Linked DNA regions of Homo sapiens. The protein of the gene in region 2 purifies or fractionates together with the protein of the main gene of each other region. This does not show direct contact. Each region holds a gene or a part of one and is shown on either strand. Other genes may lie near its edges.

What was found.
Region 1: the proteins of NCBP2 (region 2) and PHAX purify together in Homo sapiens (affinity purification with mass spectrometry; 5 studies listed by BioGRID and IntAct, with this or other methods). This does not show direct contact.
Region 3: the proteins of NCBP2 (region 2) and KPNA1 purify together in Homo sapiens (affinity purification with mass spectrometry; 3 studies listed by BioGRID and IntAct, with this or other methods). This does not show direct contact.

What each region holds. Positions count from the first base shown.
Region 1 is NC_000005.10:126,617,882-126,621,632, reverse strand, and holds part of PHAX (phosphorylated adapter RNA export protein), read right to left. Parts: intron 1-3,751. UniProt on the Homo sapiens protein: A phosphoprotein adapter involved in the XPO1-mediated U snRNA export from the nucleus.
Region 2 is NC_000003.12:196,935,913-196,939,663, reverse strand, and holds part of NCBP2 (nuclear cap-binding protein subunit 2), read left to right. Parts: intron 1-231; coding exon 232-413; intron 414-2,015; coding exon 2,016-2,154; intron 2,155-2,581; coding exon 2,582-2,653; 3' UTR 2,654-3,751. UniProt on the Homo sapiens protein: Component of the cap-binding complex (CBC), which binds co-transcriptionally to the 5' cap of pre-mRNAs and is involved in various processes such as pre-mRNA splicing, translation regulation, nonsense-mediated mRNA decay, RNA-mediated gene silencing (RNAi) by microRNAs (miRNAs) and mRNA export.
Region 3 is NC_000003.12:122,513,070-122,516,820, reverse strand, and holds the start of KPNA1 (importin subunit alpha-5), read left to right. Parts: upstream 1-1,881; 5' UTR 1,882-2,064; intron 2,065-3,751. UniProt on the Homo sapiens protein: Functions in nuclear protein import as an adapter protein for nuclear receptor KPNB1. Binds specifically and directly to substrates containing either a simple or bipartite NLS motif.

The DNA.
Region 1 (3,751 bases), on a different chromosome or scaffold from region 2:
TTAAAACAGGAAAACAAACTTAGTCAAGTTCTGGCTTCTAAGTTCTACATATGGTGACTGTTAGCAATATAGCAATTAAAAGAATAATTATAACATCATCATTTAGGTGGCATCTGAAATAAATGATCTATAATAAAATTTTATTGGTCAGGCATGGTGGCTCACACCTGTAATCCCAGGACTTTGGGAGGCCCAGGCAGGAGGATTGCTTAAGGCCAGGAGTTTGAGACTAGACTGGGCAATATAAGACCCTGTCTCTACAAAATATTTTAAAAATAAGCTGAGAGTGATGGCATGTGCCCTACAGTCCCAGCTACTAAGGAGGCTGAGGCAAGAGGGTCACTTGAGCCCTGGAGTTTGAGGCTACAGTGAGCTACGATAGTGCCATTGGACTCCTGCCTGAGTGATAGCAGGAGACCTACCTCTTCAAAACAAAACAAAACTGCCAGGTACAGTGGCTCACACCTGTAATCCCAGCACTTTGAGAGGCCGAGGCATGAACATCATTTGAGCCCCAGAGTTCAAGACCAGTCTGAGCAACATAATGTGAGACCTGGGTGACAGAGTGAAACCGTCTCTTTTTAAAAAGAATTTTTTGGCCAGGCGCAGTGGCTCACTCCTGTAATTCCAGCACTTTGGGAGGCCGAGGAGGGTGGATCACCTGAAGTCAGGAGTTTGGGACAAGCCCAGACAACATGGTGAAACCCTGTCTCTACTAAAAATACAAAAATTAGCCGGGTGTGGTGGTATGCCTGTAATCCCAGCTACTCGAGAGGCTGAGGTGAGAGAACTGCTTGAAGCTGGGAGGCGGAGGATGCAGTGAGCCGAGATCGTCCACTGCACTCAGCCTAGGGGACAGAGTGAGACTCTGTCTCAAAAAAACAAACAAACAAAAGAATGTCCTTGTAAGTCAACATTTCCCTATTATTAGATATTCCAAGTGTTTCTATTTTTTGTTATTATAATGCAAAGTTTCTGGTAGTTTGACATAAAAACTTTCTAGTATTAAAATCCTTTCCCTAAATGAGCTGGAATAACTGAATTACAAAGACATAATACAGTGAAAATAACTCCAACATGGTTTTGGAGTCAGAGTGGTCTGTGTGATCTCAGGCATATAATTTTGATTATTCTCCATTTGTAACATTCACGGTGATACAATGTGGTGAAGATTAAGTTATATAATATTAATCTTTGGTCCAGTGGGAGGAAATCAATAAATGTTACAGTATTTCTTTTCTCCTGCCTGAGAATATTATTTGTCCAAGGTTTAGTTACTTAGAAGGTATCTTTTAAGTACATACTTTTTGTCAAGAATTACTTTGGGTGAGAGGAGAGAACATTAGAGTATAATCTTTGCTACCACTCAACAGTTGTGTTCCTAAGGAAACTTACATTGTTACAAATCATGTTACTGAAACAGTTGTTACAATGAAATGAAAAAAGTAGTTACTAGAGATTTTAGATTTACAGTAACATTTCCTATAGGAATGTCAATATAGCAGACTCTATTAAAATGACTGTTAAGAGAACAGCCAGAAAACTTAAGGAAAAAGAACACTGAGCAGATGCAAAATGCAATTACCTGGACCAGCTCAAGGTAAGTTGCTTTATCTGTCATCATTAGCATTACAGTCAGTATGGCTAAAAGACACATTCCTATTACCTTTATCACCATTGTTATCATAAGGAAAATGTGCGGCTACTCAAATACAACAGCTGTGATAGATGTGCACCACCTCTTTCCTATGCAAGAGTTTAGTTCTCAATCTTTAGTCTATGAATAAATGCTAAGTGCAAATCATGTTCTCGGATTAACAAATTAAAAGAAAACAAATTTTAAGTTTTGAAAAATCCATACTGTAGAAGAATGTCCGTAAAAGATATTCCCAGTAACACAAACATGATTTAAAATACTAAAGAGTCTACACCTTCTAGTTTATAATACTGGAGACAGAAGAATGAATGAAAGCCACAAGGAGACAATCACCAAAATATAATAAGGTAACCTAATATTCTGTAAGATAACCACCTGTAACTTTTTTTTTTTTTTTTTAAAGACAGAGTCTTGTTCTGTCACCCAGGCTGGAGTACAGTGGTGTGATCTCGGCTTACTGCGACGTCCACCTCCCAGGTTCAAGCGATTCTCCTACGTCAGCCTCCCGAGTAGCAGGGATTACAGGCGCCCGCCACCATGCCTGGTTAATTTTTGTATTGAGTAGGGTCGGGGTTTCACCATGCTGGCCAGGCTGCTCTTGAACTCCTGAACTCAACTGATCTGCCCACCTCGGCCTCCCAAAATGCTGGAATTACAGACAGGAGCCACCACGCCTGACCTAACCATCTTTAACTCTTCAAAAGGTCTAAATCATGAAGGAAAATGTGGGGTTAAAAAGAATAAAGGAGGGCCAGGCAAGGTGGCTAACACCTGTAATTCCAGCACTTTCGGAGGCCAAGGTGGGAGGACTGCTTGAGCCCAGGAGTTGGAGACCAGCCTGGCCAACATGGAGAAACTCCGTCTCTACAAAAAATACAAAAATTAGCTGGCCATAGTGGTGCATGTCTGTTGTCCCAGCTACTTGGGAGGCTGAGGGTCATCTAAGACCAGGGAGGTCAAGAATGCAGTGAGCTGTGATGATGCACTCCAGCTGGGGCAACAGAGTAAGACTTTGTCTCCGGCCGGGCGTGGTGGCTCATGCCTGAATCCCAGCACTTTGGGAGGCCAAGGCAGGCAGATCACGAGGTCAGGAGATCGAGACCATCCTGGTTAACATGGTGAAACCCCATCTCTACTAAAATACAAAAAATTAGCTGGGCGTGGTGGCGCAAGCCTGTAATCCCAGCTACTCAGGAGGCTGAGGCAGGGGACTTGCTTGAACCCGGGAGGCAGAGGTTGCCGAGATCATGACACTGCACTCCAGCCTGGCGACAGAGCAAGACTCCATCTCAAAAAAAAAAAAAACAGTTTTTAAAAAAAGACTTTGTTTCCAAAAATTAAAAAAAAAAATTTAATTAAAAATATATAATACAGGAGGAGATACAACAAATGGAATATGGAAACCTAGACTGTATTCTGCTTAGGGGGAAAGTATATAAAATATATTCTTGGGACAAATTAGGAAATTGGAATAAGGTCTAGATATTGAATACTATGAAATTGTTTTTATTTCTCTTAGGAGTGATAATGGGTCTTGTGGTTATGTAGGGTATTGTCATTACTGGGAGATACTTTTTTTTTGTATTTTTTTTTTGGTGGGGGATGGCACCAAGCTGAAGTGTTAACTGTACACTCACTCCAGACTCATTGCCTGCCCTTACGCTTGTTCAAATAATTAGAACTAAGCATCTGATGCTTGTTATTTATTTCCACATGGAACAGGAAAAGACTGTATAGGCCAGGCGTGGTGGCTCATGCCTATAATCCCAACACTCTGGGAGGCTGAGGTGGGTGGATCACTAGAGCCCAGAGTTCCAGACCAGCCTGGGCAACATCTCTACAAAAAATACAAAAATTAGCTGGGTGTAATGGCATATGCCTGTACTCCCAGTTACTCTGGAGGCTGAGGTGGGAGGACTACTTGAGCCCAGGAGGCAGAGGCTGCAGTGAACAGAAATTGCGCCACTGCACTCCAGCCTGGGCAATAGAGCCAGGTCCTTAGACCCTGTCTCAAGGGGAAAAAAGAAAGAAAGAAATAGAGAAACAAATAAAAAGTGTATAGGTAAAGAAAGAATGGTTCATGCCTGTAATTGC
Region 2 (3,751 bases):
TGTTGTATGTGGTATAACTTTTGAGCCCTGTCTCTACTAAGAGTCTGGACTTCGCATAAGTGCTTCACAGAAGGTCGACATCCCCCTTTTTGGGCAAGGGATTTCTGGTAGGCTGGGATGAGAGAAGTTGATTTCCAAACCAGAATTAATGAATGTCTCTACCGTACTTAGAAATACTATTTAAGCAAGGCTCTGAAGTTGCTTAACTTTTGTCTCTATTTGAAATTCTAGGGTGACAATGAAGAACAAGAAAAATTACTGAAGAAAAGCTGTACGTTATATGTTGGAAATCTTTCTTTTTACACAACTGAAGAACAAATCTATGAACTCTTCAGCAAAAGTGGTGACATAAAGAAAATCATTATGGGTCTGGATAAAATGAAGAAAACAGCATGTGGATTCTGTTTTGTGGAGTATCCTTCCCATGGATCTAATGTAGCTGCTGAACCAGGGTAGAGCTGAGAGTGGTAGCTCATAAGCGTCCCTGCACTCGTCCCTACGTTTTCCTTCATCTCCCTCCTACTTTCCACCCAGTGTGTCTCTGCCCTTATACTGTAAAGCTGATACTATTTATATTCTCTTCTGAAATCCATGCTTTATGGTTCTTTAACAAAAAGTTTTTCAAGAATGTTTGCCCTTCACGTAAAAAAAAAAAAATTCCAAAGAATGTAGTGAAAATATAAAAATCTCGTACTGTTCTAAACCCCTAATGCCCTTTGCCAGAGGCAGTCAGTTACCAGTTTCTTGGGCGTCTTTCAAGAAGTAACCCTGTGGGTGTGCGGTAGTGTATTTCATGTGCTGTTTTTAAAATCATTTTTTTATTTTTTATTGTTCCATTTCAGCATATGTAGGTCTTTTTTTAAAATAGCTGTACAGCTGGGCATGGTGGCTGGTGTTTGTAGTGCCAGCTGCTCAGGAAGCTGAGGCAGGAGGATCAGTTGAGCCCAAGATTTCAAGGCTGCACTGAGTTGTGACTGTGTTCCAGCGGGGGTGACGGGTTAAGACCCCATCTTTAAAGAAAAAAACTTTTAAGTAAATAGCTGTATAGTATTTCATTATATAGATGTATATAACCTGACTGTATAGGTACAAACCAAAACTATTTACTTTGATCATTTAATTCCCTTACTCAGACTCTTTTAAGTATTGGACCTCTTGGATTTATCCTATGTTCTTTTTACTGTATGTTTTGGTCATTCAATTTAATATTCTGAGAAATTTTGCAGGCCCAATTTAATATATCTTTTGAATTTTTTCCTGTGCCCTGAATTATGTTTGTTTCGGTTGAAATTTTTCCTTAAGTGTCTGGTGATCCCTGGATTTCTGCTCATAATTAAGGAAAAGAATGCTGACTCACTGGACCCAGGCAGGGCTTCTCTCCCAGATTGCAGGCTTGCCTCGGGGATACACAGGTTTCCCAAATGCTAGAATGAAAAGAGATTTTATTTTGGCTTGCTAACATCAAAGATACTAGTTTCTCCAGATGGTTTATTCAGAACACTGTTGTCTTATTTTTATTTGTCTGAGATTAAATGTCTTCCCCTTTAATTAAAGGGAGGTCTCTGATGAAGTAGGTTTGGGAACTGCTACCTTGGTGACAGCTTGAGTCTTTCCTTTAGTGAAGTGCAGCACAATTCCACGTGCACGGTGACCTTCTCTTGATTAGGGTGCCTTGGAATGTACAGAACCTAACTTGAATATACAGCACTGGTTTCTTGGATAAGAAGTGTACAGTGATCTAAACTTGCAAACCAAAATACAGAGATGATGGGACCAAAAATTATCAACAGGAATGTCCAAGAAATATGATCAGTGTAGCCATGGATACGTGTCATATTTGACTCTATGTGCTTCCAAACCAATCGCAAACAGGCCTGGGCAAGCTGAATTACTGTCTTTGAACTCCATCTGGTTGGATTAGCTCTTGTACTTTTTAACAACTCAGCTTCATTTACATGTTGTTCCCCTATTTCCAGAAATGTTTGGAAAAATGCTAGTGTTCCTTAATACTTAAGATATTACTCACGCGCAGATGCGGAAAACGCCATGCGGTACATAAATGGGACGCGTCTGGATGACCGAATCATTCGCACAGACTGGGACGCAGGCTTTAAGGAGGGCAGGCAATACGGCCGTGGGCGATCTGGGGGCCAGGTATGCAAGAAGGGTCTCTGGGCTCAGCCATTGCCTGGGATTCCAGTCACAATGACAGGTGTTTTGGCAATTTGTATTTACTCTTTTGTAAATAACTTTGTGTCTATAACCTTGGCTTGAAGTGGATCTGAAAACCACCCAACGGTTTGGGTGAATTTTTTTTTTAAACCGTGAAATGGTATGTTCTGTACGTTTCTAACAAGCAACCATTCTTGAACTTCTGCTAGGGCTAGGTATCTTCCACCTGCAGGAACATCTAAAATGAAAGCAAAACGCACTGAAGTGAGCTGAAGTGCATATGTCCTGCTTGAAATGTTCACATTGTGGCATCTGAACAGGTTTCACTGTTTGTCTAACATGTTTGTGGGAGGCATATTTGTTACACCATTCTTTTCCATACTGTAACTCTGGATTCTTTCCATTAAAGGTTCGGGATGAGTATCGGCAGGACTACGATGCTGGGAGAGGAGGCTATGGAAAACTGGCACAGAACCAGTGAGTGGTGAGAGCTCTGTCAGTGACAAACACTCCTTTGGCCTGTTGAATTTGCTGAAGAACATCACCTAAAGTCTGCACACGAGCCCATTTTTACCAAGATTTGATCAGTGTCTTTACTGAGCTGGAAGCCTCTGAAAGTTATTAAAGGACAGAATCCAAAAGAATGCCTTTAATTCTTGTCTGAGAATCTTGGCCATGTGTCAGATTATCAGAACAATTTTGTTACCAGGTCAGAAATTGTGTTCTTTGACAACAGATTGGATCTGTAATGTTGATTAGTCTTTAGCCATAACCACTACACTTTTAGAAAGACAGAAAAATGTAAGAATTTGTTTTTACCATAATGAGTCTTAAGTAGGTTCATGATCTACATTGGGGCCTGGGATTATTTTTTTAATTTTAAGTTTGCATGAGATAGCCTAATAAATGGAGGTGGGGCCAGGCATGGTGGCTCACACGTGTAATCCCAACACTTTGGGAGGCTGAGGAGGAAGGATAGCTTGAGGCCAGGAGTTTGAGACTAGACTGGGCAACATAGCAAGACCCCGTCTCTACAAAGCACAACGAAAAACAACAAATGGAGTTGTGCTATGTTGTATTGCTTTGCACAAAATTAGGAACAGGTGTTTGACAATTGAATTTGTTTTCTGTGAATTCTAACCTCTAAAGGCATGCTTAGAGGTCAAGGACCTTCCTGTGTAGTTGGTGCAAAAGCAATCTCCACAGGACAGCACTGCTTCCATGCTTCATACATCAGGAAATGAGGCCAGAACTTGAGTATTTACTAACACGTTTTTCAAAAGATGTCAGTGTTATACCTAAAGCTAAAAAAAAGCAAGGGTTTGTCATAGAGGGAACCTCTAAATAATTTCAGGGGTAGGGGAGATGTTGTCAATAGGAAATGGGATAAAATATCAAGAGACAATGAAAACACTGCCTTGACATGAGGACCAGCAAGTTTATTCTTTTCATTTTCAGTGATGTTGGGAATGGACTGGGTTTTAAAAGGGAGCTTGAAGAGGGAATGTTTGACAGTCACAGAAGGTTCCTGCAGCAGATGCCTCTTTTAGCCATTTCTCATTTTTTTCCTCAAATTTTA
Region 3 (3,751 bases), about 74 Mb from region 2:
TCCTAGGATCTAGCAGTTTCCCTATACACAGTAGAGATGTACAAGAATGTTCACAGCAGCATTGTTTGTGACAGTAAAAAATACTGTTCTATACTTTCAAATTTCTCAAACTATAAAATGATATTGTCAGAGAGACAGTAGCTTATAAAACACCATGTATGGTATGATAACATTTTTGTAAAAGTAACATACATAGGAATTCAACTTCCAGCAATGGCCTACTGTTGTTTTCAATCAACCTTTCCACTACAGAGAACAACTGAACAAAATATAAAAACGTTAATGTACTGAAGAGCTACCAAGGAAGTGAGAATTTGTGAGTGCAAGGTCTGGAAGAAAAAGGAAGCCACCAGAGGTTAGCCTGATATTTGCCATCATTTTTCCAAAGCTAAGGTGATTGCTGACTCTGAAAGCAGTGGCTGAAACAGGGAGAAGAGCTTATGGCTGTCTCATGGGGCTTAGAAGGCCCACCAAAGAGAAGAGGCCCTAGTAAATACCCCAGACTTTTGGATGGGACCATCAAGGACTAGCTAGGAATAAGGGTGAACCGGAAATAAATTAGCTTTCCCAAAGACTGAAGACCGGCTCTGAATAATCAGTCTTAGTTCCTTATTGGAATAAGGTGATCTGTCTTCAGTCTAGCTGTGGTCAGGCAAACTTGCCCTTAAGTCTCTCCTGTTGAACACACCTTCCCTTTCCCCAGCCCCCTTGCTCAAACTCAACTCTGATCTTAGTAAACACAACATCAGCGGGAGAATGCTGATGCAGCAGAGAGAAGTCCAGGACAAATGAACATTGCATAACCTAGGATTCAGGTAGAGTGGTCCTCTCTCCTCTCCTCTTCCCTGGGACATTTATAAATGTATTAATCTACCTCATCTCTTTCACCTTGCTTCTTGGCATGTGTTTTAAATCTGTCTACTATTCCGTGATCCCTGCTAGGCTGGCTTCAGTTTTTCTTCTTTTGAAGCCACTACTCCATTTGCTCCCCCAAAGAATTCCATGAAATTTAACATTAGCAATCATTTGCTCCAAGTTTTCGTTTGAGAGCAGTTGAGAGTAAAACGAGTATGTGTTTCATGTAGTTTCATTATTATTATTATTATTATTGTTATTATTATTTTTGAGGCAGGGTCTCACTCCGGTTGCCCAGGCTGGAGTGTAGTGGCGCGATCTCGGCTCACTGCAGTCTCACCGTCAACCCCGGGCTCAGGTGATTCTCCCACCTCAGCCTCCCGAGTAGCTGGGACTTCAGGCGCCCGTCACCACCCCCTGCTAATTTTTGTGTTTTTAGTAGAGACGGGGTTTCGCCATGTTGCCCAGGCTAGTCTCAAAACTCCTAGCCTCAAGTGATCCACCCACCTCGGCCTCCCAAGGTGCTGGGATTACAGGTGTGAGCCACCGCGCCCGGCCCTTAATTATTTTTGATACTACGCATACGTTATCAAGCAAAGGGGATGGGAGATAACTAAAAAAGGAATGTCCAGAAGCTTCCTGCATTCATGCTGCATGTGAGCCCTTTAGACACGAGGCGCTGACCTACTAATTTTGTAATACTCCCTCAGCCTTCAATCATTCCATCATTCATTCCATCAACGCGTATTAGGTACTTAGAAGCTATACAGAGGTGAGCATCGATCCGCCCTGGAAGAGCTTAGCAAAGACAGGTTTGTACATATAACTTTCTCCAACCTTTGCCATGGTCTGCAAACCTCCTTCTTAGCGAGACCCCCTCCCCGACCCCCGACTCTTCACAGGCTGGGCGCTAACCATTAGGAATGTCCGGCGAGAGAGCGTTACAAGACTACGTCTCCCGGCAGCCTCTGCGACAAGCGCCGGAGGGGCGCGCGTAGGCGCTCGGGCCGGCCCCCGCACGCAGGCGCACTGCGAACGCCGGCTGAGCTGAGTCTCGCTGCTCGGTGCGAGGCGGCGGAGAGCGAGGCCTGGTGAGCACCGCCGAGGCGCGGGCCAGCTCTTCGAGGTTGTGCGCGGGAGTGGCACGGCGGGCGGGCGAGCGAGGGGCTAACTTCAGCGGTGGCACCGGGATCGGTTGCCTTGAGCCTGGTGAGTGCTGGGGCCTTGCGGCCCCGGCCCCTCCCCCTCCCGCCGGCAGATCCGGGCAGTCCCGGAGGGACTCAGGAGAGGCCCTGGGGCGAGGGCGGGTGCCGGCAGGGCCTAGAGCCGGGGTTCCTGGGCCGGACGCTCGCGCCGCGTCCGTGCGTCACGGGCCCGGCTGTCCTAACGGCCACAAGGCCGGCGGAGGAGAGGGTGGGGGTGGGGAGCCCTGGTGTGATCGCCATCGGGAACGCCGGTCGAGGCTAGGCGGGGCGGGGCGGCGTGGCGCGGCGGCGGGGCTGTAAGCGGCGCCGGGGACTGCGGGGCGCCGAGGCAGCGGGCGGAGAGGAGGCGAGCGCGGAGCCTGCGCCGCGGCCGGGCGGCGGGCGGGAGGCGGGGGTGGGCCGCGCAGAGCGCTGTGACAGAGGCAGGAAGGAGCAGGGGTGGCGTGTAAAAATTCTAACCCTGGCAAAAAGGGACCGTCTTGGGAATTCACAAGTTACAGACCGGGTCGGAGCCGGCGGCCCGGAGGGAGGTGGGGGAAGCGGGGGGTGGAGACGGCCGGCTGCAGTTTACCGATGTCATAACAACATGGGCCTGGAGCGGCTGATCGGGGGTGTGGTAATTATAGCAATGACAGAACTTGGTCTGCACGCCGCGTGTGCGATGCGAGGGAAGCAGCGAGGTATCGGATTAAGCTCAAAACGGGAGGAGGAAACAAGGATGACTGGAGTCAAGGAAGTCGTCATGAAGTAATGTTTTAGGATTGGGTCGTGTTCCACTTTTAAATGAAAGCGTTCAAAATATTTGATTTTTAAGGTTTCAACTCAGAACAAACGATTGCCGAGTTTTTGTTTGTATTTTAAAGAGATGGGGTCTCGCTATATTGCCCAGGCTGTACTCCAACTCCTGAGCTCAAACTGTCCTCTTGCCTCAGCTTCCCAAGTAGCTGGGACTAGTCTTGGGCAACCACACCCAGCTCTGCAGAGTATTTTTTTTTCTGAAACGTACTGTCAAGTAATATTAACTTGAATTTCACCCTTTTTTCTTAAATAAACGGTTGCTTAAAAATCTCTATTAGTAGATGAAGTGATTTCCCCCCTCCTGTTTTGTTTTTTTTTTTCTTAAGAGATGGAGTCTTGCTTTGTTTCCCGGGCTGATCTGGAACTCCTGGCCTCAAGGCATCCTCCCTACTAGCTGGAACTACAGGCGGATGCCACCAGCAAGGCTCATTCTCGACATTGTTTTTGTCTTAACTAGCTTTTGCATTTGTAATATTTTGAAAGCAGTACACAAGTTATTTTTCCCTCCTTTTTAAAGATCAAAGAGATGAAAATTTAATTTTTCAAAGGAAAGTAAGAATGAGTTCTGTTGTATTTTTACTGAAATATTCTTGGAAGACACTGTTTTATGGATAGATGAGACGTAAGAGAAAGTAAAGGAATTAACATTTATTGAGTTCTTTTTTCAGGTATTGTGTTAAATGCTTTACATATATTAAAAACATTTGAATCTGAAGTATCTGTTAATTTTTCTATTTTACAGATGAAAGCATTGACAATCAAATGTTAAGTAACTTACCTAAGGTCTTCCAGTTCTTGTTGAGAACAACCTTAGAACCCAAAGTTACTGCCATTTAAATTATTTCTCTCCTTTCATACTTTTTCGTTGTTTTCTTTATTTAATCCGTTCAATC